Linked DNA regions of Homo sapiens: regions 2, 3 and 4 are each linked to region 1. The links come from fine-mapping of genetic effects on gene expression. A gene starts in region 1. Each other region holds a variant in brackets. All regions are shown on one strand. Distances are between the middles of the regions.

Evidence for each region. PIP is the estimated chance that this variant, and not a neighbour inherited with it, causes the effect. A credible set is the group of variants that fine-mapping cannot tell apart.
Region 2: its variant is the best candidate, but not a certain one, in a credible set for the expression of HAGH in whole blood (TOPMed, PIP 0.58).
Region 3: its variant is the best candidate, but not a certain one, in a credible set for the expression of HAGH in whole blood (INTERVAL, PIP 0.74).
Region 4: its variant is the best candidate, but not a certain one, in a credible set for the expression of HAGH in whole blood (TOPMed, PIP 0.65).

The regions. Positions count from the first base shown.
Region 1 is chr16:1,823,096-1,830,303 of GRCh38, forward strand. HAGH (hydroxyacylglutathione hydrolase) reads right to left here and starts at 3,730. Exons shown (of 9, transcript NM_005326.6): 1 at 3,617-3,730. The coding sequence starts at 3,692. It overlaps FAHD1 (fumarylacetoacetate hydrolase domain containing 1), which reads left to right and starts at 4,111. Exons shown (of 1, transcript NM_031208.4): 1 at 4,111-5,815. The coding sequence starts at 4,144. The coding sequence ends at 4,809. RefSeq lists enhancers at 807-876, 4,141-4,330 and a silencer at 3,081-4,050.
Region 2 is chr16:1,866,110-1,873,785 of GRCh38, forward strand. It overlaps MEIOB (meiosis specific with OB-fold), which reads right to left and starts at 6,055. Exons shown (of 14, transcript NM_001163560.3): 1 at 5,884-6,055; 2 at 1,998-2,075. The coding sequence starts at 2,066. The variant C/T (reference allele first, on the strand shown) is at 3,633.
Region 3 is chr16:1,742,235-1,749,910 of GRCh38, forward strand. MAPK8IP3 (mitogen-activated protein kinase 8 interacting protein 3) reads left to right here. Exons shown (of 32, transcript NM_001318852.2): 5 at 1,098-1,242; 6 at 4,795-5,041; 7 at 6,010-6,112; 8 at 6,368-6,486. Among named protein-coding and RNA genes, the nearest start is that of MIR3177, 11 kb to the left of the region's middle. The variant G/A (reference allele first, on the strand shown) is at 4,059.
Region 4 is chr16:1,788,597-1,793,596 of GRCh38, forward strand. It overlaps NUBP2 (NUBP iron-sulfur cluster assembly factor 2, cytosolic), which reads left to right. Exons shown (of 7, transcript NM_012225.4): 7 at 1-590. The coding sequence ends at 118. IGFALS (insulin like growth factor binding protein acid labile subunit) reads right to left here. Exons shown (of 2, transcript NM_004970.3): 2 at 1,817-3,805. The coding sequence ends at 2,004. Among named protein-coding and RNA genes, the nearest start is that of IGFALS, 2.6 kb to the right of the region's middle. The variant G/A (reference allele first, on the strand shown) is at 2,180.

The DNA of each region.
Region 1 (7,208 bases):
CGCAAGCTGCAGTGCTTCCCAGCCTTTCTAGGTTCCTTTGAAAAGGAATATTCTGGCCAGGTATGGTGGTTCTTGCCGGGAATCCCAGCGCTTTAAGAGACTGAGATGGGAGGACTGCTTGAGGGCAGGAGTTTGAGACCAGCCTGGGCAACATAGCAAGACCTTGTCTTTTTTTTTTTCTTTTTTTTTTGAGACGGAGTCTCGCTCTGTCGCCCAGGCTGGAGTGCAGTGGCGCGATCTCGGCTCACTGCAAGCTCCGCCTCCCAGGTTCACGCCGTTCTCCTGTCTCAGCCTCCTGAGTAGCTGGGACTACAGACGCCCGCCACCATACCCGGCTAATTTTTTGTATTTTTTAGTAGAGACGGGTTTCATGGTGTTAGCCAGGATGGTCTCGATCTCCTGACCTTGTGATCCGCCCACCTCGGCCTCCCAAAGTGCTGGGATGACAGGTGTGAGCCACCGCGACCAGCCAAGACCTTGTCTTTGCAAATTTAAAAATTAGCCAGGCATGGTGGTGCATGCCTGTGGTCCCAGCTACTCCGGAGGCTGAGGCAGGAGGATCACTTGAGCCCAGGAGTTTGAGGCTGCAGTGAGCTATGACTGTGCCACTGCACTCCAGCCTGGGTGACAAGACAATAACCTGTTCCTTAAAAAAAAAAAAAAAAAAAAAAAAAAAAAGGAATATCTTCATATATCCCTGAGGAGAACACAGGAACTAACTCATGCTCACATTCATGGAAATCAATTGTTTCAGACTTACGATCTCTATTTTCTTTTTTGAGAACTCTAAAAGGACAGGAAGGCCAGCTTGTGATTGTGAGGCGAACCACTGCCAGTGCTGGATTATTCACACCCCGGACTCAGGGACAGAATGTGAAGAAGGGAACACAGACTAGGGGTGCCCCCGCCTGGCCATCTGCCCTCCAGCAAGCTGTGCTGCCACCACTGACTAAGCGAGCCTGCGTTCCATGCAGTTACAGCCCTTCTCAGCCTCTAGCCAGAAAGAACCAATACTTGACGGCAGGCTGAGGCAGGAGAATTGCTTGAATCCGGGAGGTGAAAGTTTCAGTGAGCCAAGATCGCCCTACTGCACTCCAGCCTGGGCAACAGAGTGAGACAGTCTCAAAAAAAAAAAAAAACAAACAAACAATACTTGCTCTTGAACAGCACGAATCTGAGATATGCACAAAAATCAGCAGTTCCTTTGAGACGGAAAGTTGGCCACAACTGCCCCCAGATTCAAGTGTGGAGGACACAAAACCACCATCCAACTGACCCAAAGGACTCTGCCACAGGGGCCCAGAAGGCCCAAGAGCTGGGAGGAGTGGGTGACCAAGGGACAAAAGTGTCTGCCACCCAGTCGACCAATGCAAAAATATTTTCAGCAATGAAACTCCTACTAAATCTAAAAATACCTGGGGGCCCCGACAATACCTTCAGTTCCGCTCTACACGGGGAAGAAACCACAGAAGGTGGCAGAGGACAGTGCAGTCCTGGGGTAGGTGCCACGGCAGGGGCTTCTCCCAAAAGGGATCCAGAAATGGGCAGCAGCCACCAACTGACAGACACACGCGTCTCCAGGGCCCACCGAAATGCGGAATCCGACCTTATTTCCACAGCCGGGGAAACTGCCCAAACTATAGTTTCAATCACTGCACAAAGATATCCTATTACCCGCCTGACAACCAGCTGGGCATTTTCCAGATCATTCTCCTCAGGAACAATAATACCAAGATTTCTATATGAGCAGCTTCCTGTGTTATTCCCCTTCCCCTTAGCCTCAGCACCACCCCAGCCCAAGGAGCACAACAAGCAGAGTGTGGGTGCTGGGGGCTGCAGGTGGGGTGCAGAAGGGTTGTGACAGGATTCCGAGTGCCGGGCGTCCTCCTGGAAAGGAGCTCCATTACAAACAAGGAGCAGAACATTACAAACAAAAATACTGCCCACGTGCGGTGGCTCACGCCTGTCATCCCAGCACTTTGGGAGGCCGAGGCGGGCGGATCGCGGGGTCAGGAGTTCGAGACCAGCCTGACCAATATGGTGAAACCCTGTCTCTACTAAAAAATACAAAAATTAGCTGGGCGTGGTGGCGAGCGCCTGTAGTCCCAGCTACTCAGGAGGCTGAGGCAGGAGACTCGCTTGAGCCCGGGAGGCAGAGGTTGCAGTGAGCCGAGATTGGCCACTGCACTGCCCAGGCGAAGAAAATGTCATTTACAACTGGTGCTCAGCCTCCCCTGGAGACCATCACAGCCTCCTGAAGAAGCTGACAACCCAGGGAGGTGCCTTTATTTCTGAGGAAAGACGCAGCTGGTGCCAACACCAGCAGAAACCGTATTCCCTTTCCATATCACTCAGCCCAGCACTGCCTGGCAAATGTTCCCGGCTTGCTGTTTTGTAACTGTAATACTTTGTACAAACAGGTCAAGGACCTGCAGCCTGGGGCCTGGACCAAGTCCAGAAACATGTTCGGTTTGGCCCCAAAAACAAAAAAAAATTGAGATATGGTCTCACTCTGTCCCCTAGGCTACAGTGCAGTGGTGCGATCAAGGGTCACTGCAGCCTCGACCTCCTGGACTCAAGCGATCCTCCCACCTCAGCCTCCAAAGTGACTGAGACTACAGTTGTGTGCCACCACGCCCGGCTGATTTTGTTTAGTTTTTGTAGCGATGAGGTCTCAACATGTTGCCAGGCTGGTCTGGAACTCCTGGACTCAAGCGATCCTCCCGCCTCGGCCTCCCAAAGTGCTGGGATGACAGGCGTGCGTCACTGCACTTCTTTTTTAAATCAGGAAGTTTCACAGCATCTTGCTTCCCTTGAACTGGGCGGCACCAAATACGGGGGCTGGGGCCTCCCTTAGAATGGGGTACGCACGCCCTGCCGATGCACACAGTCCCGCTGGAACTCTCTGCCTGGACCCTTATGAATGTCCCTAAAACTGTAATTCTGAGGACCTCAAAATCCATGTCCTTTCCTTAGCAATGGCGACATTCTACCCCCTGCAGAGCCTTGACAGCTTTCGGCGAGATCTGGAAACCGCCAGGGACGCCTCCCTGTCTGCGCCTCCGCCCGCCCAGTGCCCTGCGCTGCGCACCCGCCCGGGGCGCTGGCCTGGCCCGGCCGCGCGACCACCTCGGGCGAATGACACGCCGGGTCCCCAGACGGGGGCTCCGGCGCCGGGCGGGCAGCTCCACCACCGCAGGCGGCGCCGCGAGACCGCGGTCCTTGCAGCGGGGCAGCAGGTGCGGGGTGGGCCAGGCGTCCCGGGGCCCTGCCCGCTGCGCCTCAGAGCCGCGCCCCAGGCTCTCCTCGGCGCCGGCCCGGGCAGGACGCGATGCCCTGGAGGCGTCAGGGGCGCGGCCGGCCCAGCCCGAGCGTGGAGGCCGCGGCGGACGCAGGCCTGGCCCTGCTTACCTAGCGCTTTCCGCACCCGCGGCCCCGCGCCCGCTCCGCGCCAGCCTCAGCGCCTGCGCCGCCTCCGCTCGAGCCCGGCAGCGCGGCCTTAGGCACCTGCGCAACAGACACCGCGTCAGCGGTCGCCAAACGACGGCCCGGCGCCGCCCGCTGCCCGCCCCGCCAGGCCCGCGTCCCCCGGCCCGCACCGCCCCGCCGCACCCACCGAGGCCTCGGCGGGCGCAGGCGGCTCCCAGCGCGGCGAGGCTGCGGCGGCCGAGCAGCCCTCGGCCCACCACCATGACCCGGGCCGGGCTGGACTGCCGAGCTGCCCAGGACTGCAAAACACCGGCGTCGGCGCGTCGCAGCCAATCAGCGCCCGCCTCGCGCTGCCCTCAGCCAATCAGCGTCCACCTCGCACCGTCCGCCAACCAATCAACGCGCTCGCGCTCAACTTGTTTTGTCCGCGAGCCCCGACTGCCACGGGCCGGGAGACGGGCCTGGGAGCGGCGGCGGCGGCCCGAGAGCTGCGCCGGGAGAGCTGTGCCGCGAGCCTCCGCCTCTTTTTTGGCACCGCACAGTGGATCCCTGGAGGCCGAGCGCCACGCCGCCCGGGTACCCGGCAGATCGCGAGGTGGAACGGGCCGTCGCTGCGGGGGACAGCGTTCCGAGGCAGTTGGTCCTCTCCGGGATGCCGTAGGCATCAGCTGACCGGCCCAGCCCACGTGACTACAGGGGCACTTGATGGGAATCATGGCAGCATCCAGGCCATTGTCCCGCTTCTGGGAGTGGGGAAAGAACATCGTCTGCGTGGGGAGGAACTACGCGGACCACGTCAGGGAGATGCGCAGCGCGGTGTTGAGCGAGCCCGTGCTGTTCCTGAAGCCGTCCACGGCCTACGCGCCCGAGGGCTCGCCCATCCTCATGCCCGCGTACACTCGCAACCTGCACCACGAGCTGGAGCTGGGCGTGGTGATGGGCAAGCGCTGCCGCGCAGTCCCCGAGGCTGCGGCCATGGACTACGTGGGCGGCTATGCCCTGTGCCTGGATATGACCGCCCGGGACGTGCAGGACGAGTGCAAGAAGAAGGGGCTGCCCTGGACTCTGGCGAAGAGCTTCACGGCGTCCTGCCCGGTCAGCGCGTTCGTGCCCAAGGAGAAGATCCCTGACCCTCACAAGCTGAAGCTCTGGCTCAAGGTCAACGGCGAACTCAGACAGGAGGGTGAGACATCCTCCATGATTTTTTCCATCCCCTACATCATCAGCTATGTTTCTAAGATCATAACCTTGGAAGAAGGAGATATTATCTTGACTGGGACGCCAAAGGGAGTTGGACCGGTTAAAGAAAACGATGAGATCGAGGCTGGCATACACGGGCTGGTCAGTATGACATTTAAAGTGGAAAAGCCAGAATATTGAGTTATTTCTTAACAAGTTTCGAGAGAGAAGGGAGCAAGACAAGAGCAAGCAACGGCTATTAAATGTCACAATCCTTTAATTAGAAACCATTTATTGGCCGGACGCGGTGGCTCACGCCTGTAATCGCAGCACTTTGGGAGGCCGAGGCGGGCGGCTCACGACGTCAGGAGATCCAGACCATCTTGGCTAACAGGGTGAAACCCCGTCTCTACTAAAAATACAAAAAATTAGCCGGGCGTGGTGGCGGGCGCCTGTAGTCCCAGCTACTCTGGAGGCTGAGGCAGGAGAATCAATTGAACCCGGGAGGCGGAGCTTACAGTGAGCTGAGATTGCGCCACTGTACTCCTGGGCAACAGCGAGACTCCGTCTCAAAAAAAAAAAAAAAAAAAGAAACCATTTATTTTAAAAATGATTAGATTGCTATGCCTCAACTCATAGAAGATGAACCCTTCAAGAAAACGTGAAGTAGAACGGGTGGGCCAGAAATGAAAACAGGCAAGTAAAGTATTTCTTCGGAAAACATTTTATCAAACCAAATGTTAAAAAGACTTTCCTTTTGTAAAACTGGATTAGAGAAGACTTTTCAGTGGGTTATCTCTAGGATGATCAGTAGTTCAGCACTTAAAAACTGCAGAGAAAACTGAAAGTTATGTTCCAGATAACTTTCCGTTGTTTACCAAATTTTCTTAGATTTGGTCATCATCAGGAAGCATTTGTAAAAATAAAAATCTCCACAAATTACTGGCCCATCTCGGACTTGCTGAATCAATTTGATAGGATTAATCTCCAGTGAAGCTGTGTTTACAGGGCATTCCAAGTGATTCTTATCAGGAAATGTGAAAAACACTCCTGTACATAATCGGTTAATTTAAAATTTTACTTAATAAGTGAACAAGTAATGAAGATTTCACCTGTTTACTTAGGGTATCTACCCAGACCCATCGATTCTGAGTTCGGGAGATGATTTTGAAATTACTGTTTTCCAAATAAAGGTGCTCCCTTCTAAGTGGCTTACAAGGGTAATTTTTTTCCCCCCAGTAATGACGAGGAGGGATATTTCCTCCTTGTGGGGCTTCAGACCTTAGTCTTTGACCTTTGGCCTTCTGAGCACTGTGCTGTGTTAACACAGTTAATCAGCAACTGTACTTCCCAACCGGAGATAAGGAGGCTTTGTGGAAGTTGAATAGCCTGGGACTGCTGCTTTTGCTCTTGCCTGCACCCTCCTCTGAAAAAACATCCAGGCAAGATGCACAGCATAGCTGTCAATGCCTGGAGGAGTCCTTTGGGCTTCGGCAGGGGTTCCTGTTCGCGTTCACATCATCTGCTGGCCCCTGAAGAAAGCCTAGGACATCTGATTGAGTAGTAACGGTCCCCATGTATTGAACACAGTACTGTTAGGCACCATGCCAAGCAGTTTATTCTGTATTTCCACGTGTTATGTAACCAGCAACCAAGCCATAAGCTTAGTATGATCACTACCATCCCCATTACTCAGATGAAGACAGATCTAGAGGCTGCGAAGGCTGGCTAAAGTCACTCAGCTTAGTGGCAGAGCCGAGATGTAACCCAGCTCCCCCAAGACCAGAACGTGAAGTTTTGACCACAATGCAGGCTGCATCTTGTAAGTAGATACATAAGAAGAATCAGACACTTAGGTATGCTGCAACCCCATGCTTAAATTATAATATAGTATGAGGAAGTGCCATAATTGGATTTCTTTATTAAGTATCATGCTATCTTAACTACTTTTAGTATTATTTTTTCATTGCTTGGCAATGCATGTAATTACAGAAGAGTCAGAAAATAGAGATTAGCAATTAGAACAAAACACCAAAAATTTCATCTACCCAGAGACAGCCAAAGTTAAGCATTTATTGCAAGTTCTTCCAAGTCTGTGGATATAATTGTAATTTTTTAAATAGAGTTTGCTCATACCATACAATTTTCTTTTTTTTCTTTCTTTCTTTTTTCTTTTTGAGATGGCGTTTAACTCTTTTTGCCCAGGCTGGAGTGCAGTGGCACAATCTCGGCTCACTGCAACCTCTGCCTCCCAGGTTCAAGTGATTCTCCTGCCTCAGCCTCCCAAGTAGCTCAGATTACAGGCATACGCCACCACACCCGGCTAATTTTGTATTTTTAGTAGAGACAGGGTTTCACCATGTTGGTCAAGCTGGTCTCGAACTCCTGACCTCAAGTGATCCACCCGCCTGGGCGTCCCAAAGTGCTGGGATTACAGGCATGAGCCACCGTGCCCAGCTATACCATACAATTATTTAACTTGCTTATTTCACTGTATATTGTGACCATCTTTTTCCTTGTTAGCTGACACATTTCTGCAGTACAACTTTCATGGATTGCATAAGATTCTGAAGTCAAGCCTCCATTTTTGGACCTTGAGA
Region 2 (7,676 bases), 43 kb after region 1:
GCATAATAACTGCCCTATGCTATCAATCCTTACTGAATTCATCCAAAGCACATGTATAATGCAATTTAATTTGCCACAGTCTTCAAAGCTTTCCTTTATATAGGGTTTTCTAACAATCCACATAAAATCACTTAGCTTCTTAATCCAAACATGCTGGACAGTAATATAAATTAGACTGTAACAAAACTTATATTTTGCTGCTAATAAATCTAAATTCTAAAGTCCTAGATCTTAAAACTTAGAGATATTAACATCTCCTCAAAATGTTTAATGTTCTCTTTAGTGACTACTGAAGAAAAATTTTAAATGTGTTTTAAGAAATAAAAATGGGCCGGGTGTGTTGGCTCACACGTGTAATCCCAGCACTCTGGGAGGCTGAGGCGGGTGGGTCACCTGAGGTCATGAGTTTGAGACCAGTCTGACCAACATGGTGAAACTCCATCTCTACTAAAAATACAAAAAATTAGCCAGGTGTGGTGGTGGGTGCCTGTAATCCCAGCTACTCGCGAGGCTGAGGCAGGAGAATCGCTTGAACCCAGAGGCACAGGTTGCAGTGAGCTTAGATCCCACTATTGCACTTCAGCCTGGGCAACAGAGCAGGACTCCATCGCAAAAAATAAAAATAAAAAAAAAATAATAAAAAATAAAAATGAATACCTTTTCTGAAAGGAAAAAAACTAAACTTATTTTGCTAATTGCAGCAACTGATTTTAACCTTACAATAATCTTGACATTTAAATTACAATCAGGCTTTTAAGACTCCTACATTCTAGCTGAGCTATTAGCTAGCTTTATTGCTTATTTAGACACATTGATATTATTTCTTCAATTCCTTATACTTGCAGATCTCACTGAATTTTGTTGGAAAATCCAATTAATGGAAATGTTGAGTAAAACTTTCTATCTGAAGAGACCATTATTAGCAAATAGTTTACCTTTCAAGAAAAACTATAACAACAATTGTTATTTTTTAATATTTTAAAATTTTAAATTATTAAAGTTATATGTAAATGTATCCCATTGTAAGAAATCTAGTTTGCAAAAGCAAAATATAAATAGCAGAGTGCTCAGGGGCAGGGAAGGTAAGGGTGTGTGGTAGCTGCTTTACAATAAGTTCTTTAACTTATAAGATGATTCCACTTAGTTTTCTTTTAAGTAAGTAACAGTCGAGATGTGTTCAAAATCATTGAATTCCCCTATAACTCCTACTCAAAGAGTCAATTTTCACATCATCATTGTAGAAAACACACATGTTATAAACCTATATCATAAAAGCAGCATAATGTCAAGTACTTAGACCATAAATTGGATAATTTGGTCAGAAAATTGCTACTGCTGAACAAAATGGTTTAATTTTTTTTTTTTTTTTTTTTTTTTTTTTTTTCAGAAGAGTTTTGCTCTTGTTGCCCAGGCTGGAGTGCAATGGTGCGATCTCGGCTCACTGAGACCGCCTTCTGGCTTCAAGCGATTCTCCTGCCTCAGCCTCCTGAGTACCTGGGATTACAGGCATGAGCCACCACACCCAGCTAATTTTGTATTTTTAGTAGAGATGGGGTTTCTCCATGTTGATCAGGCTGGTCTCAAACTCCCAACCTCAGGTGATCCAGCTGCCTCAGCCTCCCAAAGTGCTGGGATTACAGACATGAGCCACTGTGCCTGGCCTGGTTTAATTTTACAATGCTAAATTTGAGCATTTATTAAATTTTTCACTTTATAAAATATTAAGTAAAATAATACATCTATTGATCATTTTGAACAATTACTAGTCAAATCTACAATCATATCTTCTACTCTACACACAAAGATTAATTTTCATCTAGGTGGCATAAATACAAAGAAATTTAGGTATACTTAATATCTAACAATTATACCAATGCAATGAGTATCTATATACTTGCCAATTATAAAAGCATGTGTTGAATGAATCAATAACATTGATGTAATGTTATCACATAAAATGTCATCAGTAAGCAAATCACCACATTATTGAAACCTACCAGATTAGCCATATTTGTCTGCAGATCTGAAAGGGTAGTGAAAATCCTCGCTGCAAAGGAGTTTGCCATTTTTTTAATCTGCATTTTAGAAAATATAATTTAGATATATAAATTGAATAAATGAAATAAATCATTTAAAAAATTCCAAGAGTTTAAAATCTTATTTAGGGCCGGACATGGTGGCTCATACCTGTAATCCCAGCACTTTGGGAGGCTGAAGTGGATGGATCACCTGAGGTCAGGAGTTCAAGACCAGCCTGGCCATCATGGCGAAACCTCACGTGGTAGCGGGCACCAGTAATCCCAGCTACTCAGGAGGCTGAGGCAGGAAGAAGTGCTTGAACCTGGGAGGCAGAGGTTGCACTGAGCCGAGATCGCACTACTGCACTCCAGCCTGGGCAACAGAGCGAGACTCTGTCTCAAAAATAAATAAAACAAAATAAAATAAAATAAAATAAAATATTATTGGCCAGGTGCGGTGGCTCATGCCTATTATCCCAGCACTTTTGGAGGCCGAGGAGGGCGGATCACAGGGTCAGGAGATCGAGACCATCCCGGCTAACATGCTGAAACCCCGTCTCTACTAAAAATACAAAAAATTAGCTGGGCTTGGTGGCAGGCACCTGTAGGCCCAGCTACTCGGGAGGCTGAGGCAGGAGAATGGCGTGAACCCGGGAGGCGGAGCTTGCAGTGAGCTGAGATGGCACCACTGCACTCCAGCCTGGATGACAGAGCGACACTCCATCTCAAAGAATAAATAAATAAAATAAAATAAAATATTATTTAGGAAAGCACTGGATAGTTTACTGCTTTGGAAAATTTTTATTATAATGGTAAAATGTAAATTAATATCGATTAAACCTATAAAAAACATGTTCAGAATGTCCTTTTATAATTTTGAATGATATAGCTATTATAGGTTTCAATTTTTAACTTTCATTTCTAAAACCATGTAAAATTTAGTAGTTTTTGAGCACCATGTAAATTTAGTTTTATTTTATTTTTTAATTTTGTTTTAACTTTTTTTCTTTTTTTGAGACATCAGTCTCACTCTGTGCCCCAGGGTGGAGTGCAGTGGCACAATCTCAGTTCACCACAACATCCGCCTCCCAGGCTCAAGCGATTCTTCTGCCTCAGCCTCCCAAATAGCTGGGATTACAGGCGCCTGCCACCATGCCCAGCCAATTTTTGTATTTTTAGTAGAGACGAGGTTTCACCATGTTGGCCAGGCTGGTCTTGAACTCCTGATCTCAAGTGATCCGGCCGCCCCCAAAGTGCTGGATTACAGGCGTGAGCCACCAAGCCCAGCCAAATTTAGAGTTTTACATGCAAGATGATTCAATAGGACATTTTTTTTTTGAGATGGAGTTTCACTCTGTTGCCTAGGCTGGAGTGCAGTGGTGCAATCTCAGCTCACTGCAAGCTCCACCTCCTGGGTTCACGCCATTCTCCCACCTCAGCCTCCCGAGTAGCTGGGATTACAGGCACCTGCCACCACGCCTGGCTAATTTTGTTTTTGCATTTTTAGTAGAGACGGGGTTTCACCGTGTTAGCCAGGATGGTCTCCATCTCCTGACCTCGTGATCCGCCCACCTCGGCCTCCCAAAGTGCTGGGATTACAGGCATGAGCCACCA[C/T]GCCCGGCCTCAGTGGGACATTTAAGGATTTAAATATATATTAGCATCAAGCTTACCTCAAAAAATACAGCAAAAATCTACGTAAACACCTCATATTGAGCATTTGATTATACTGTGTGAAGGGAAAGGTAGTGATTTTTTTTTTTTTGAGACGGAGTCTCGCTCTGTCGCCCAGGATGGAGTGCAGTGGCACGATCTCAGCTCACTGCAACCTCTACCTCCCAGGTTCAAGCGATTCTCCTGCCTCAGCCTCCCGAGTAGCTGGGACTACAGGCATGTGTCACCTCACCCAGCTAATTTTTTTGTATTTTTAGTAGAGATGGGGTTTCACTGTGTTAGCCAGGATGGTCTCGATCTCCTGACCTGATGATCCACCCGCATCAGCCTCCCAAAGTGCTGGGATTACAGGCGTGAGCCACTGAGCCCAGCCCGGGAAAATTATTGATTTTAAACACACCTCTACATAGTAAAACTACATGAGGGCAGAGGTGGCATCTTACGTATTTTTATGTATGTATTTCATAACTGAAAACCATAAATATCAGATGAACGAAATGGTGGTTTGTCCCTCAACATCATCACTCTAAAAGGTTCTATTGTAGAAAAATTGTAAGCTACACCAAACAGATTGACTTCACTTTATAATCCAGGGCCTCTTTAACTCTGGGAATGCCCACACCCACCCGCTCCAGTTCAAGGACGTGTCTCATGACACCTGAATTTCAGGCAGCCTGTGGAGTTAGTCAAATATGATTTTGAATTGCAACACCACTAGTTTGTAGTCGTGTGTTTTAACATTACTAAACATTAATTTCCTCATCCTTAAATTGTGGATAACATCCACCTGGCAGTGAAAAGTAGAAACAGTGTATACAAGATGCCTCGATGTTCACAGGCTCACAGTCAATGATGGCCCTGCTTGTCAATATTATCCAATGTACCAGTTTTTGTATTCAAGGCCTTTCAGTGCCAGAAGAAACATTTGGGAATTAAGCTGTGTCAAGTTTTTCATTCGTTCTTTGGCCTGGTCTGATGTGGCTCACAATGCAGTGTCACTATCTAAAACACTTGCCGAACTGTGACAAATTCATTCACTCATTCAACCATTCAACTAATATTTATTTACAGCCCAAAGTGCCAGACATGTGAGTCGAGAGGATGAGTCAGACATTTGACTCAGTGGCTGAATATTCTGTACAAACACAACTACCTACACACCAAGGGATTTCTCCACATTTTTACCCCTTAGCATCTCTTGGTGGGACATGGTATCCTATTATCTCTCTGAATTCCCTTATTTGTCTGCTACCGTTAGAGGTATATGGTAATAGACGTTAGTGTCTGCCCACAAAAAATATGACTTGCTTCTCTACCTGGTCACTTTAACAGATACAAAATTAACATGAACTAAAGAGCTCAATCTGAGAATTCAGAGATGACTTCATTCAACAACTACTGTCTCTTTTACCCTACAATTTTGTTTTGTTTTGTTTTTTGAGACAGAGTCTTGCTCTGTCGCCCAGGCTGGAGCGCAGTGGCGCAATCTCGGCTCACTACAAGCTCCGCCTCCCGGGTTCACGCCATTCTCCTGCCTCAGCCTCCCGAGTAGCTGGGACTACAGGCACTCGCCGCCACGCCTGGCTAATTTTTTGTATTTTTAGTAGAGACGGGGTTTCACCGTGTTAGCCAGGATGGTCTCGATCTCCTGACCTCGTGATCCACCCGCCTCGGCCTCCCAAAGTGCTGGGATTACAGGCTTGAGCCACCGCGCCCGGCCCTTTTTTTTTTTTTTTTTTTTTTTTTGACAGAGTCTTGCTCTGTTGCCCAGACCGGAGTGCAATGGTGCGATCTTGGTTCACTGCAACCTCCACCTCCCGGGTTCTAGCGAGTCTCCTGGTTCAGCCTCCACAGTAGCTGGGATTACAGAAGCCTGCTACCACACCTGGCTAATTTTTGTATTTTTTGTAGAGATGGGGTTGCACCTGAGGTGGGCAGATCGCGAGGTCAGGAATTTGAGACCAGCTTGGCCAACATGGTGAAACCCCGTCTATACTAAAAATACAAAAAAAATTAGCCAGGTATGGTGGCGCACGCCTCTAATCCCTGCTACTCGGGAGGCTGAGGCAGGGGAATCCTTGAACCAGGGAGGAGGAGCCGGGCCCTGACCCGCGCGGGCTCCCTTCCTCGGACGCCGCCCCACAGCTGGAGGCCTGGCCCGCGTCGCCACCTGGCCGTCCACGCCGCTGCTTACCCGAGGCTCGCCCGGCCGGCTGCTCCCCGGGCCTGCACAGCTGCCGCCGCGGCCTCGCGGACCTGGCCCGCCCGACCCCCGGGTCGCCCGCGCTTCGCGGCTTCTCCACAGGACGCTCGGGCCACAGCCTCGTGCAGGTGCGACGGCCGCGCGACCGTTAGCGCGAGGCCCCGCCCCGTCCTCAGCGACTCCGCCCCCACCGCTCACTGACTCCGCCCCCACCGCTCACTGGCTCCGCCCCCACCGCTCACTGGCTCCGCCCCCAACGCGCTCAGACTCAGCCCTCGGGGGAGGGGAGGGGAGCCCGGTTCCCGTTTCCTCCTTCTTGGGAGTTAGAGGGACAAGACAGCCGCAGGCGCGGGGAGGGGTCTCCGTGCGCTCTCACAGCCGCGTGTGGCTCTGTGGTCGCTGGATTCCAAAAGACGGTGCGCCGGAAAAAAATAAACATATCTCTCTATCTATAATATTATGAAGGGCGGGCGCGGTGGCTCACGCGTGTAATCCCAGCACTTTGGGAGGCAGAGACGGGCGGATCACCTGAGCTCAGGAGTTCAAGACCAGCCTGGCCAACATGGTGAAACCCCGTCTTTACTAAAAATACGAAAGAAATTAGCCAGGCGTGGTGGTGAGTGCCTGGTTGTCTTGTGGCGCCGCCCGCCCACCCGAGTAGTCCCAGCTACTCAGGAGGCTGAGGTATGAAAATCGCTTGAACCCGGGAGAGGTCGCTTGAACCCAGGAGAGGAAGGTTGCAGTGAGCCGAGACTGTACTACTGCACTCCAGCCTGGGCAACAGAGTGAGACTCTGTCTCCAAAAAAAAAAAAAAAGAAAAAATGAGCCAGGCACGACGATGCATGCCTGTAGTCCCAGCTACTGGGGAAGCTGAGGGGGGAGAATCGCTTGAGCCCAGGAGTTCAAGGCTGTGGTGAGCTATGATGGCGCTACTGCACTCCAGCCTGGGCAAGAGTAAGACCCTGTCTCTACAAAATTAATTAATTAATTAATTAATTAATATATCTACATCTAATGATAGATTTGGCATGTAGTACATCAAGAAAATACCCATAGATGGGCTGGGCGCGGTGGCTCACGCCTGTAATCCCAGCACTTTGGGAGGCCGAGGCGGGCGGATCACGAGGTCAGGAGATGGAGACCATCCTGACTAACAAGATGAAACCCCATCTCTACTAAAAATACAAAAAATTAGCCGGGCGTGGTGGCGGGTGCCTGTAGTCGCAGCTACTCCGGAGGCTGAGGCAGGAGAATGGCGTGAACCCGGGAGGCGGAGCTGGCAGTGAGCTGAGACCGCGCCACTGCACTCCAGCCTGGGTGACAGAGCGAGACTCCGTCTCAAAAGAAAAGAAAAAAGAAAAAGAAAGAAAAAACCCTAGATGTGTATATCTATGTATGAAAAATATATATATAATTAGATGTGCTAAGGATTGGACTTAGGTGAATCTGACAAAAATTTTCTCAGCTCTTCATGTTTTTAATTACTTCCATTTAGAAATCTTTTTAGTTTAATGACTTATACTAATTTTTGTTAACAGAGTACCAACCCAGGGCAAGTAAGATCCAAAAACTAAGTCCATTAAATTTGTCACCTACTACTGTCCACATGTAGCATTATTTAAGTTTCTCTTTAAAAAGAGAAGAACAACTTTGGTGCATATAACACACACATATTATAAAAGAAAAATACCACTGTAGAACCAAGTTTTATGTTATTATTAAAATACAGTTTTTCTTTTCCTCATTTTTTTTTAATTTCCCAAATAATACTGGGAAGCAAAAT
Region 3 (7,676 bases), 81 kb before region 1:
CGCGGAGGAGGACGTAAAGGGAGACCTTGGGCTCCATCCCTGCTCTTGCTTATGGCCCACAGGAGGTCATCCCTAGGGACTGAGCCCACAGCAGGGGGCACTGAGCACTGTCCTGACAGCTCCAGCTCCCAGGCGCTCCCACTGTCTTGCCAGGCTGTCCGAGGCCAGGCTGTCCCAGGGTCCGTCTTCAGGTTCGGGGCTCCCTGACAGCAGAGAGGACACGTGGGGAGGGAGAAGACGCCCCTCAGGCTCAGGCTCCGGCTGCAGCAGATGAGACGGGGTCAGTCCTTACTCTGGATGTGTCGTGTTCAGATATTTTGCAGTGAGGCAGCCTCATGAACAGGAGTAATGAGGATGGGCAGGAGGGGCCAAGGAACAAGGCACAGGGGCAGGAAGGCTGGATTCCCTCTGCTGGCGCCAGGGGAACAGGCAGGGCTGGCAGTAACACCACAGGGAGGCAGGGCTGGGCACACATAAGACAATGGTCCTAAAAGGCATTGCTCATGGTGGCCGTGCAGCGCTGACCGTGATGCCAAGTCCCGTGGCTGGCTCTGCTGTGGGGTGTCTAAAGCACACCCGGCTTGTGTCTGTTTAAAATTGAACTTAGGCCGGGCGCGGTGGCTCACGCCTGTAATCCCAGCACTGTGGGAGGCCGAGGCAGGCGGATCATCAGGTCAGGAGATCGAGACCATCCTGGCTAACACGGTGAAACCCCGTCTCTACTAAAAATACAAAAAAAAATTAGCCAGGCGTGGGAGGCTGAGGCAGGAGAATGGCGTGAACCTGGGAGGTGGAACTTGCAGTGAGCCAAGTTCGTGCCACTGCACTCCAGCCTGGGTGACAGAGCGAGACTCCGCCTCAAAAAAAATAAAATAAAATAAAATAAAATAAAATTGAACTTAATAAAAATGAGAAACTGCAGCATCATGGGAGGGGAAGCGCCACGTAGGATCATAACTGAGTAGCTGCTCGAGCTGGGCTGCTGGCTGGCATGGAGCGGCCCCATCACTCGAGGTCTGCTTGCCCTGGGAGGGCTTGGGAAATCTTCACGGCCACCCTCTAACCATCGCTTCCTCTCCTCTCGCCCCCCATTTCAGCAGGAAGGAGCGCCCCACCTCCCTGAACGTGTTCCCCCTGGCTGACGGCACGGTACGTGCACAGATCGGGGGCAAGCTCGTGCCTGCGGGGGACCACTGGCACCTGAGTGACCTCGGCCAGCTGCAGTCCAGCTCCAGCTACCAGGTTTTGTAGCCGTGCCGTGGAGTGAGAGGCTCCTCCCTGTTGCTGGTGTTCCCCGTTCACTGGGGCGGGAGCCTCGTCTGCAGGCAGCCCTTCACGGCTCTCTGGGCCACTCGCCCTCTCCCTTCGTGTGTGGCAGGATGGAGAAACCCAGCCAGGGTGTCAGGGGCTCAGGCTGCCCAGCAGGCCCTGTGTGGCTGTGGCTGTTCCACGCGGCCTCGTGTCGGCACCTGCTAGTCCAGGCTAGACCTCCCTGCCCTTGGATAGACCGCTCTGTAGCCAGGGGTGTACAGTGCCTGTCAGGGTTGAGCTTAGTGATCCTCTCTCAAACCACACCCCCACATAAAGCCTCATGCTCACCCGGGCTCCAGCCAGACACATCCTGCCCCTGAGAGCCACGCCTCTACTCTCGGAGGAACGTCAGTGTCTAGAGTGTGGGGTTTGCCCTCCGTTGGCAGAAAGGTGAGGAGAAAGCTCCTCTTCTCTGGGCCCCTCCCTGCCTGTCCCTGGTAACGCCTCCTGGGTCCTGAGTTTGAGAAAGCAGAGCCTCGCCCCAGCAGGTACTCACAGCCAGAGTGCGGGGGCCCCAGCAGGTTCTCACAGCCAGCCGGTGAGTGCACCTCAGAGCACAGGGGCCCAGAGCCAGGCCACTCCTTCAGGGCCCCAGGTCGCTTGCTGCCAGTTTTGGCCTGTGAGCTCACTGGCCTCAGTGCCAGGTAAGGACAGCCACCTTCCTGGGAAGAAGAGGTGACCCCGGGTCTGGTGGATTTCCCACAGGGGCCGTCAGAGGATGTCCACAGAGGCAGAGCCCTTGGGGCCTGTGGGCTGGGTTGGGCTGGTGGATGTGGGGCCTGGGACTTCTCCAGAAGCTTACTTCCTGCTGCATGCTTTGCCGACTGTCCTTCCACCTCTAAGTGTCCATCGTGCCTGTGGGGGCTGCTGCAGGCTCCTGCTCCGTCAGCCCACCTGCTGCTGCGCTGCTCTGGGAGCGAGCTCCCTCATGGCATCTGGAACGCTCTCCTGTCCTCCCTGTGCTCAGGGCTGGAGAGAGGGTGGCGGGGCTGCGGGCTCCCCGGGCCTTCTGGGCCCAGCCCTGCCACCTGGGCCCACCTCCTCTCACTGTCTCTGGCTCACGCTTCCCGGGCCTGGAGCTGGGACCTGCCCATAGGCATCTGAAGACACGTCAGCCTCAGCCGGGGGGAGCCCTTGCTTGACGCTCTCTGGCCTCCGGGCTGCCTCTCGCGCCCGCTCTGGGCCCGCTCTTCTTCTCATGATGTCTTTCCTTTCACCTCCTGCGTTGTCTGACATCGTCGCTCTCTTCATAAATTGTAGCGTTTTATGTTTTCGTTCATAGGAGTGTTTTATTTGATTTTTCTTTATTTTAAATTATTACATTTAAGTTCTTTTTATTTTATGCTCTAGGTTTTGAAGTTTTTCTAATTTCTTAATTTTTTTGTTGTTTTTTGTTTTGTTTTGTTTTTGTTTTTATGTACTGTATTTTCAGTGTTTTAACCAAACAGTTGTGGCTACTCATGGTGAGGAATGACCGCTAAGAGTTTGGGTTCTTTCAGTGCATTTGGAGGTCACTGCTACACGTTGATGTTTAGGAGGTTGAGAGGTTTGCCTTTAGGTAAGTTGTGGCCAGGGGGAGTGTCCCATGGGTAAGTGGTGGCCCTGTAGGGTGACGGAGAGCTAGGGGAGGCGCAATCAGACTGCAGAATTCCCCGCAGCCACCATGAGGGTCAGGAGCAGGCCGGGGACCCAGCGTGGAGGAAGGTGGCCCAGAAGCGTTTGTCTGATGTGCACAGCTACACCCTGCCTGGCCACATGGGGTTCCCTGTTTTCTCTCTGCCGGGTGGTGGCAGAGTCGGTGAGACACCAGGTGCCTGTGACACATTGGGTAGACAGGTTCTTTGAGAACGTCAGCACAGACTTCTTGCATGAGCGGTACTCGCTTCCTCCAGCGTGGGGAGTGACATGAAGAGCAAGGGTTTTCCTTTCAAACTGGGCATAGCTGCAGAGCCACAGGCCGTCTCAGACATTTCTACAAAGCCACTCCGGGAGGCGGGCTGCGCCCGTGTGAGGGCTCTCCCTCGGCACTGCTCATCTTTTGGGGCTGGACATGCATGGCCTGGGCCGCTGGGACGCGGTGGGTGTGGAGCAGCATCCCTGGCTTCCACCCACGAAAGCCAGGAGCACCCCCTTCATTTGTGACCACAAAAATGTCTCTGGACTTTGCAAGCATCCCCTCGGGGCAGTCAGCCCAACTGAGAATAGCTACTATAGAGGAAGGTGTGTCATTTTGAGATTCCTTCTAGAGAAACTTAGGAGCCTGGTAGATGAAGCAGAAATGTGTCCTCTGAGTGAGTGGCCGTGTCCGGTACTGAGAGGCCCCGTGCCCTGAGTCTGGCGGTGACCAGAGAGGCTGGGCAGAGGCAGAGGTCAGCACTGGCCATGACTTCTGGAAGTCCCGTCTGCCCTGGTCACTTAAAGGCCAGTATAAGTCAGCTGTGGAGAGGGCTGGATACCCCCTCGACAGCTCCTCCCTGGGTGAGATCCTTAGCATTAGAGTCCCCCACGGTGCGCCCTCTGAGAGACCACGGGAACCCACCCAGCGGCTGCCTGGGACAGGCACAGGAGCCACCTGGGTGCCTCTGAGGCCTTGCACTTTCCCACACCTCAAGGAGGGCCGGGGGCCACGGGCAAGCTCTGCCATAGCGGGTGATCAGGTCAGCTAAGACGAGAACGTTTGGGGCTCTTTTTCTCCAGCTGGTTCAGTATCTTTGTTAGGAAAGACCATTGGAAAGAATGTTTGTTTC[G/A]CATTCCGCATTAGTCACATAGAATGCGCTCCTCCCTAGCGAGCTTCCTGAGGTAGACGGCTGGTTGCGGTTTCTCGTAATCCGGGCTGCCCCCACCCTCCAGAATGTCTTGGTGGCGTCCCTTTCTGTGAGCAGGGATTGTGGTTTCTTTGCGCTTGCTCATGTTCAGGGGTGAGCTCTGGTCCAGTCAAGCCACAGGGTCAGCACCTTCTGGTCACTCCCTGGCCCTGACCTGAGCCCGGGGAGGAACGTGGGGCAGGCGCGGGTGGGCCCAGCCTCGAGCTCTTCAGCACAGTGATGGTGACGGGGCAGCGGTGGCGGCACAGCCAGCCCTTCTTGGGTCCCCAGTCAGAGCCCTCTGCCCTACCTGGGCTGGACTTGTTTCTGAACAGCCACAAGCTACAGGGGGCTGCCGCTGTGTCCCTGGCGAGGCACTGGCCCATTACAAGCAATCGTCTGGGGAGGGCACCAGTGGAAAGCCCCGTTCCAAGCCATTTCAGGAGGGTGGCCCTGCTTCCGAGGAGCCGGAGTCAGTGGCCGGATAAGCAGAGCCACTCGGGAGTGGTGAGGCCCGGAAGGGTTAGCCCGGTGGGCGGCAGAGGAGCTCTGGCCCGCAGGGTGTCGGGCGAGGCAAAGTGCAAAGCATTGGTGCGCGGGGCCTCAGGCAGCCACGGCGGAGCCGCAGGCCAGGGACCTGCAGTGACTCGCTCTCCCTCCTCCCTGTGTTTGGCCTTAGTGTCCACAGGATGAAATGTCCGAGTCAGGCCAGTCCTCGGCGGCCGCCACACCCAGCACCACAGGCACCAAGTCCAACACGCCCACATCCTCCGTGCCCTCGGCCGCCGTCACACCCCTCAACGAGAGCCTGCAGCCCCTGGGGGACTATGGCGTGGGCTCCAAGAACAGCAAGCGTGCCCGGGAGAAGCGCGACAGCCGCAACATGGAAGTACAGGTCACCCAGGAGATGCGCAACGTCAGTATAGGTGGGTGCCCACCTCCGGGACTCTGGGCTCCCTCGGGCAGGAGGCAGGGCTTGGTTTGGGTAGATGTGAAACTAATGCACCAGGCGGGCAGTGCAGGCAGCAGAGACGTGTTCCTCACAGCCCGGAGGCTGGGGTCCAAGATCAAGGCGCTGGCAGGGTAGGTTCCTCCTGCGGCCACTCCTTGGCTTGTAGACACCACCTTCTCCCTGTGTCCTCAACAGGCATCCCCTGGGTGTGTCTGTGTCCTCATCTCCAGCTCCTACAAGGACATAGCCCCATTGGATTAGAGCCACCACGTGACCTCATTTTACCATAATCACCTCTTGAAAGGCCCAGCCTCCAAATACAGTCATGCTAGGGGGTATCTATTAACATATGGATTTGGGGAGACACAACTAAGGCAGTAGCCTGCGTCACCCCACGGCACACAGCCCCACTAACCAGTAACCTGCATCGCCCCACGGCACACAGCCCCACTAACCAGTAACCTGCATCGCCCCACGGCACACAGCCCCACTAACCAGTAACCTGCATCGCCCCACGGCACACAGTCCCACTAACCAGTAGCCTACGTCACCCCATGGCACACAGCCCCACTAACCAGTAACCTGCGTTGCCCCACGGCACACAGGCCAGTGAGGGAAAGAGAAGAGGGGAATGAGGGCCGAGAGGAGGTCCAGCCACTGGCTTGCTTGGACGTGGGATCTCTGGGGACTGGGCTTACTGCTGACACTCCCATGCAGAGAGGCTGCTGCAACCCACCCCGCTCCAGGCCCCGCCTCAGACGTCTACTGTGCTGGGGTTCGACCTCTGCCCAGTCAGCCTGGGAAGAGCTGTTTTCTGATCATCCCCACCTAGCAGGTGGTCCAGCTCCAGCCCACCAGACTCAGGTTCCGAGGGCAGCCGTGAGCAGGGCAGAGGCTGCCAGACCCTCTCCTGACCCCAGGTGCCCCTGTGCTCTCCCCTAGGCATGGGCAGCAGTGACGAGTGGTCTGATGTTCAAGACATTATTGACTCCACGCCAGAGCTGGACATGTGTCCAGAGACCCGCCTGGACCGCACAGGAAGCAGGTACTGGCTCAGCCCAGGCCCTGGGGTCCTGGGGGCTCAGTATTTATCCAAGTCGGTGTCTTTGGTGAAGTCTTCCTCTGCCACCACTGGGAGAACCATCAAGGCTGTGGCCTACCGCCTCCATCCACGACCGGCCTGCAGGGCAGTGTGGGCATTGAATGGCCACGGTGGGAGGTGTTGGAAGAGTCTGCAGACGCAGCCACTCCGGGCTGCCCACTGACTCTGCTCTCTCTCCCGACCTGTGGATCCCAACAGCCCAACCCAGGGCATCGTGAACAAAGCTTTCGGCATCAACACCGACTCCCTGTACCATGAGCTGTCGACGGCAGGGTCTGAGGTCATCGGGGATGTGGACGAAGGGGCCGACCTCCTAGGTAAGCGCAAGCCTTCCCCCGCACCGCTGTGCCTGCACAATGCTGGGGCTTTCTGCTGTTGGTTTTGTTTGTAATGAAAGGAAAGTCCTCTGTCAGCTGTGAGCTAGGAACCTTTTTTTTTCCAGCTTTGTTGAGTTGCGTTTCACATGGAATTGTCCCTCCATCTCCACAGGGGATTGGTTTCTGGACTGCCCCAAGGATGCCAAAATCTGAGGCTTCTCAAGTCCCTGCTCTGAAGTGGTGTAGTGTTTGCACCCTCCCGTGTACTCTAAATCACCTCTAGGTTATGTTGTAGATGCTGTGTAAGTAGTTGCTGTTATGCTGTGTCGTTTAGGGAATAATGACAGGAAAAAAGTGTACACGTCAGTACAGACACGGCCACCACAGGCCTGTACATTTTCTGTGAGGCTGGTTGAATCCACACATGCAGAACTCGTGGGTATTGAGGGTCGACTGTATCATAAAATTCACCCGCTTCGAGTGCACGGTGCGGTGGGTTACAGCGTACTCACAGGTGGGGCAGCCACCCCCATGATCTCAGTTTAGAATGTTCCGCCATCCCTAAAAGAAATCCATGCCTGTTAGCCTCGCCCCATCTTCTGCACACACCCTCAGGGCTGCCAACTCTCCAGGAGGTTGGGAGGGTGCCCGCTTCTCTGCTCTGTGCCCATTAGCCTCGCCGCACACCCTAGGACCATTGACTTTGGAGGAGGTTGGGAGGGTGCCCACTTGCCCACTCCTCCGCAGACAGCCCTGGCTTCACCTCAGCGCCACAGGTCTACACCGGACCCCTGTGCCTAGGTCTGTGGCGGCTGCAAACATCAGGACCTGCTTCCTGTCAGCACGTGGAGTCTCCTGTGCTCATGGCATCTGCTGGCAGCTGAGCACTGGCCATGTGGCTCTGAGCCCCAGGCTTTCAGGCATGACAGGCGGGCAGTAGGACAGCGCAGTCTGTCCCCTTGCACGCGTCAGGGTCCGAGCCTTTCGCCATGGCCTTGCTTCCCCCAGCCCGCAGGGTGAGAAGCTCCTGGATCCCAGGCTGCCTCCTGGTGTACTCCTGAGCTGATTGTCTTATCTGGGGCAGGGGGACCTCCAGGGAGCAGAGTAATGTGGGGTGCTGAGCACCAGCAGGGCCTCACCCTGACAGGGAGGCCTGTCTCATCCTGGCTTGAGTCAGAAAGTGCCCCAGT
Region 4 (5,000 bases), 36 kb before region 1:
GAGGACCCTGGAGGAGGGCCACGACTTCATCCAGGAGTTCCCTGGGAGCCCCGCCTTCGCTGCACTCACCTCCATAGCCCAGAAGATTCTGGACGCGACGCCCGCGTGCCTCCCCTGACTAAGGCCACCTTGCAGCCGCTTTCCAGGGCCACCAAGGGCTCTGCTCCAGCCTCTCAGAGAAACAGAGGCCTGGGCTCGGTTCCCGGGCCCTGCAGGGGCAGGCCCAGGCAGCGTCAGCCGGAGAGCTTCTCCCCGACCAGCCCAGCCCCAGGATGTGTCGCACCAGCAGCTCTGCCTGGTTGGCCTGCAGTGCCGTGGTCTGCGTGCTCTGCAGCTGTGAGACGGGGGCGGCCTGGGCTCTCTTCCCATCCATGTTGCCTACCTGTGCCCCTGGCAGCCGCGTGTCCACACAGTTAGCGGAGCGCGGGACTTCTGCAGTCCTCAGGTGACCCCGGGCCTCCAGCACCCTGGGTCGCTGTCATCTGTGTTTAGCTCGGGGAGTGCCCCCTAAGGGGGCGAACTGACCTCAGGCATGTTTTGTAACTGTAGAGGCGCCTGCCATTAAACGTGTCCGCTGCTGTGGCGACAGATCTGATGTTTCTAGAGTCTTCTGTCCTTCGGGGTCAGACAGCACCTGCTTCTGTAAGTTTCTGGGCTGGACTGGGCCAGGCCGGCAGGTTCGTTCGTTCCGTTGTCAACAAGCCCCTGGGCCCAGGTGCTGATGTGTTTGCATCTTATTTGGTGGGAATTCGGGGAGATTTTGTGATAAACCTGACAGCTGGCCCCTTCGCCGTGGAAGAATGGCCTCCCTGGGACACTAAAGGGGCCCCTCCCGGGACAGAGACCAGAAGTCAGGTTGAGAAGGGAGCTCCAATCCCAGGGGTCCCCTGCACCTCTTCCCAGTGAGACCCGAAAGGAAAGCCCTTCCAGAAAGCAGAACGCGCCATTTTTCCCAAAGGAAGAGCTCAGCCTTCAGCAGGGGAGGACCCTGGAGGTGGGGGCCCGGAACCAACCCGGGCGGCCTCTGGGTGGGTGAGAGGGCACCAGGAGCACCTGGGCTGACGATGCCGGTGCCTGGGGGGGGCAGAGACAAACGCCCACGGCATCTGCAGGGGGTGCGGCTTCCCACGCAAGGCGGACGGCCCGCCCCGCGCTCCCTCCTCACCCCACCTCAGCCGCGCCCTGGCTGCCTGGACCACACCCCTCGGGGACACTGCCTGGTCCTCAGGGCGATCCCTCAAAGAGGAGGGGTGAGACGCAGAGCCCCTGGGGATTCGAGTTGGTGCCATCATTCCTGGAGGATGTTCTGGGGAGCCCGAGGGGCAGCCACGGGGACCAGGAAGACACATGGGTGTGGGGCAGTTGGCCAGGGCGGTGGCGGGGCAGGATCCAGGCGGGGGCCCTGGGCGTGGCCAAGCCGGGGAGGAGAGAGGTGAGGAGACCAAGGCGTACCCAGGCAACACCATCCTCCCCTCCCCTGAGCCAGGTGGGTTTTTTTGAGACAGGGTGTTGCTCTGCCGCCCAGGCTGGAGTGCAGTGGTGCAGTCTTGGCTCACGGCAGCCTCTACCTCCCAGGCTCCAGTAGTCCTCCTGCCTCGGCCTCCCTAGGACCACAGGCATGGGCCACCATGCTATGCTAATTTTTTTTATTTTTTGTAGAGACGGGGTCTCTCTTGTGTTGCCCAGGACGGTCTCTCAAACTCCTGGGCTCAAGCGATCCGCCCGCCTCGGCCTCCCAAAGCTCTGAGACCACAGCTGCGCGCCGAGCCCCCAGCCCCCTCCCTGGTTTCACGTTCGCAGTCACCCACTGTGCCTGTTAGATTCGATTGCCTTTGCCTTTAATTGATGACAGCTGGGGGGGCCGCCATGCCTTCCACCCCATCAGGCCCTTGCGTCTTCCAGCAAGTGCACTGGGCAGGCCCCTGAGGACACTGAGGACCTGTCCCCAGCACAAGGTGAGCCAGGTGGGGGCCTGAGTCCGGGGCTTGAGTCCGGGGACCTGGTCAGCAGGGAGCAAAGTGGGCCTCGCTGAGGTCCCGCAGGTCGAGCCCCACGACCTCGGGCGGGCTGGCACAGGTGATGTTGTTGTAGGTGTACGCGGGCGGCTGGCAATCGTCCCCCTCACAGATGGCCTGGACGAAGCGGGGCACAGCACTGGGGTTCTGCAGGGCGAAGTCCC[G/A]CAGCGCCTTGAGAGGGCAGCCACAGTCCCAGGGGTTACCCTCCAGCCACAGGCGCTCCAGGCCCGGGGGCTGCGGCGTGAAGGTCCGCAGTGAGTTGTTCCTGAGGCTGAGGTAGCGCAGCCGCCCCAGTGGTGCCAAGAGGCTGTTGGGCAATGCCTCCAGGCGGTTGTGCGAGACGTCCAGCCAGAAGGCCCGCTGCAGGGGGCCCAGGGCGTCCGCCGGCAGCTCTGCCAGGCGGTTGCGGGAGAGCAGCAGGTACTCCAGCTTGCCCAGGCCCTGGAAGAGGCGGTGGGGCAGGTGCGTGAGCTGGTTGGAGGTCAGGTCGAGCTCCAGCAGCTCCGCCAGCCCCCACAGGCTCTGCTCCTCAATGCCCACGAGGCCGTTGTCCTTGAGGAAGAGTCGGCGGAGCCCCGAGAGGCCGGTGAAGGTGTGCGGGCGGATGCGTCCCAGGCAGCTGCCCTCCAGGTGCAGGCTGTGCAGCTTGCCCAGGCCCCGGAACACCTGCTCCGGAAGGTTCCGGAGACAGTTCCCAGAGAGGTTCATGACCGCCACGTTGGTGAGGCCGAGGAAAGCGCCCGCCTTGACCTCCTGGAGCTGGTTGTGGTCTAGCGTGAGCACCTCAAGCTGCCCCAGGCCCTCAAAGCTGCGCTCAGCCAGCTGCCGGATGCGGTTGTGGCCCAGCTGCAGCTCCTCCAGGAAGTGCAGGTCCTTGAAGGTGCGGGGCCGCAGGCTGGCGATGGCGTTGTGGGACAGCCGCAGCACACGCAGGCCCAGCAGACCGGGGAACGTGTCCTCCAGGAGGCCAGCCACGCGGTTGTGGGACAGGTCCAGCCATCGCAGCGCCTTCAGGCCCAGGAAGGCGCCCGGGGCCACGGCAGCGATGAGGTTGCGGTCCAGGTAGAGTTTCTGGAGCCGGGGCAGCTGCACGAACACGTTTGCCTTGATGGCCCGCAGCGCGTTCCTGCTCAGGTCCAGCTCCCGGAGCTCGGCCAGGCCGCTGAAGAGCGCGGGCTGCAGGTAGGCCAGCCTGTTGCCCGCCAGCACCAGCTCGCGCAGGCTGCCCAGGCCGCGGAACGCCGCATCGGGGAGCACCGCCAGGCTATTCCAGCCGAGGTTGAGGTCCCAGAGGCTGCCGAGGCCCTCGAAGAGCCCGTCCTCCAGCCTGCTCAGACGGTTGTTGCTGAGGCCGAGCGAGGCCAGCGCGGGCGTGTGTGCAAACGTGCCGAGTGCCAGGCTGCGCAGCTGGTTCCGCTCCAGGTGCAGGTGGCACAGGTTCTCTAGGCCCAGCAGCGCCTGTGGCTCCAGGCTGCCCAGCTGGCCGCCCTGCAGGTTGAGGAAGCCCAGGCTGGAGAGGTTCTGGAAGGCTGCCGGGGGGACGGACGAGAGGTTGTTGCCGTCCAGCCACAGGGCTTGGGTGCCGCCCGGGACTCCATCAGGCAGGCGCGTGAGGTTCCTGGAGCTGCAGAAGACGCTGAGCTCATCCGCGTCGTCATCGTAGCTGCAGACACAGGCGGCCGGGCACGCTGGGCCCTCGGCTTCCCCCGGCGTTCCGGGGTCTGCTCCCTCCAGGCTGCGGGGGCCCAGTGCCACCCAGGACAGCAGCAGCAGCGCCAGGGCCAGGCCTCCTGCGGGGGGAGAGGCTTGGGGAGGCGGCCCGAGGAGGGCTCTGCCCGAGTGAGCCTGATACCAGCACAGCCGGAAGCGGCGCTCAGGTGTGAACTGAGGCTCGAGGTCACCCGCTGAGATGCGAAGAAGCCGGTGAGCCCCACAGGTCCTCCGGCTCAAAAGCTGACACTGCGCTTCCCACCCCATGGGACAGAGGAGTGGCCGCCCCGCCCCGCTGCACAGACGCTCAGGGCTTGGCTCTCCAGCTGTGCGCAGGCCACGTGGGCTCGGCCAGGCTGGGTCTCGGGCTGTCTGGCCATGTGGCAGCCGCACCCCCAAGGCAGGCGCTTGAGCCAGGCCAGTCTGCCACGTTGGCCTAGAGGAAGGGGAGGGAACTGAGCCATTGGCCAAGGTCCGGCCATTTTCAGAATATTCTGCAGCAGGTCTTGGTGGGCACTCGCTCACTGCCCTCAGAGGCTGGACAGGGAGCTGGGCACCTCCTGCCCCAGTTAGGCCCCCCAGCGGGGTCTCACCTGCCTGCATCCAGGCCTTGGTCGGGTGCTGCGGGAGGGGACCGGGGCACCGCCGTCGGGGGACAGGTAGGAACCCTGGACCGTCGGCCACCAAAGCTCACATTGCCTTTCAGGACAAGGGGCCACAGGCCCCACAGACCCAGCCAGCAGGCTCCCAAGCAGCGATGACCCAAAACCTCTACTGTATGGCCCCCCCATCCTCAGAGAGTGTGGAATTGCTGGGATGGTGGCAGGGGCGAGGTGGGGCCCCCCCGACTGCCCTTCTGTCACGATGGGTTGGGAGTGGCCTGAGCCAGCTCTGGAGCTCAGCTCAGGCTTGGGGGTGGCCGAAGCTGCAAGGGGTCACCCCACAGAGACAATGGGGTGTGAGCCAACGTCTCCTGCCTGGGCCGGGCCCACAACGCGGGCCGTGCGGGGCACTTCCCGCCGCTGTGCTGGGAGCTGAAGGGTCCGGCCTGCACCTGGCCCTCCTCCCCTGTGCCGCCGCCAGCGCCCTTAGGGTGGAGGACGGGACAGAGACCCCTGGTGCCAGGCACAGCTGTGTCCCCCTGCCAACCCCAGCAGCCGCATTTCCGACTGTGGGCTCCCCAGAGTCCCCCGCAGACCCCCAGAGCTGAGCCCCCCAGAGCTTCCTTGGGGGCTACCCCGGCCTCTCCCCAGCGGGCTCAGGGTCACAGACTGG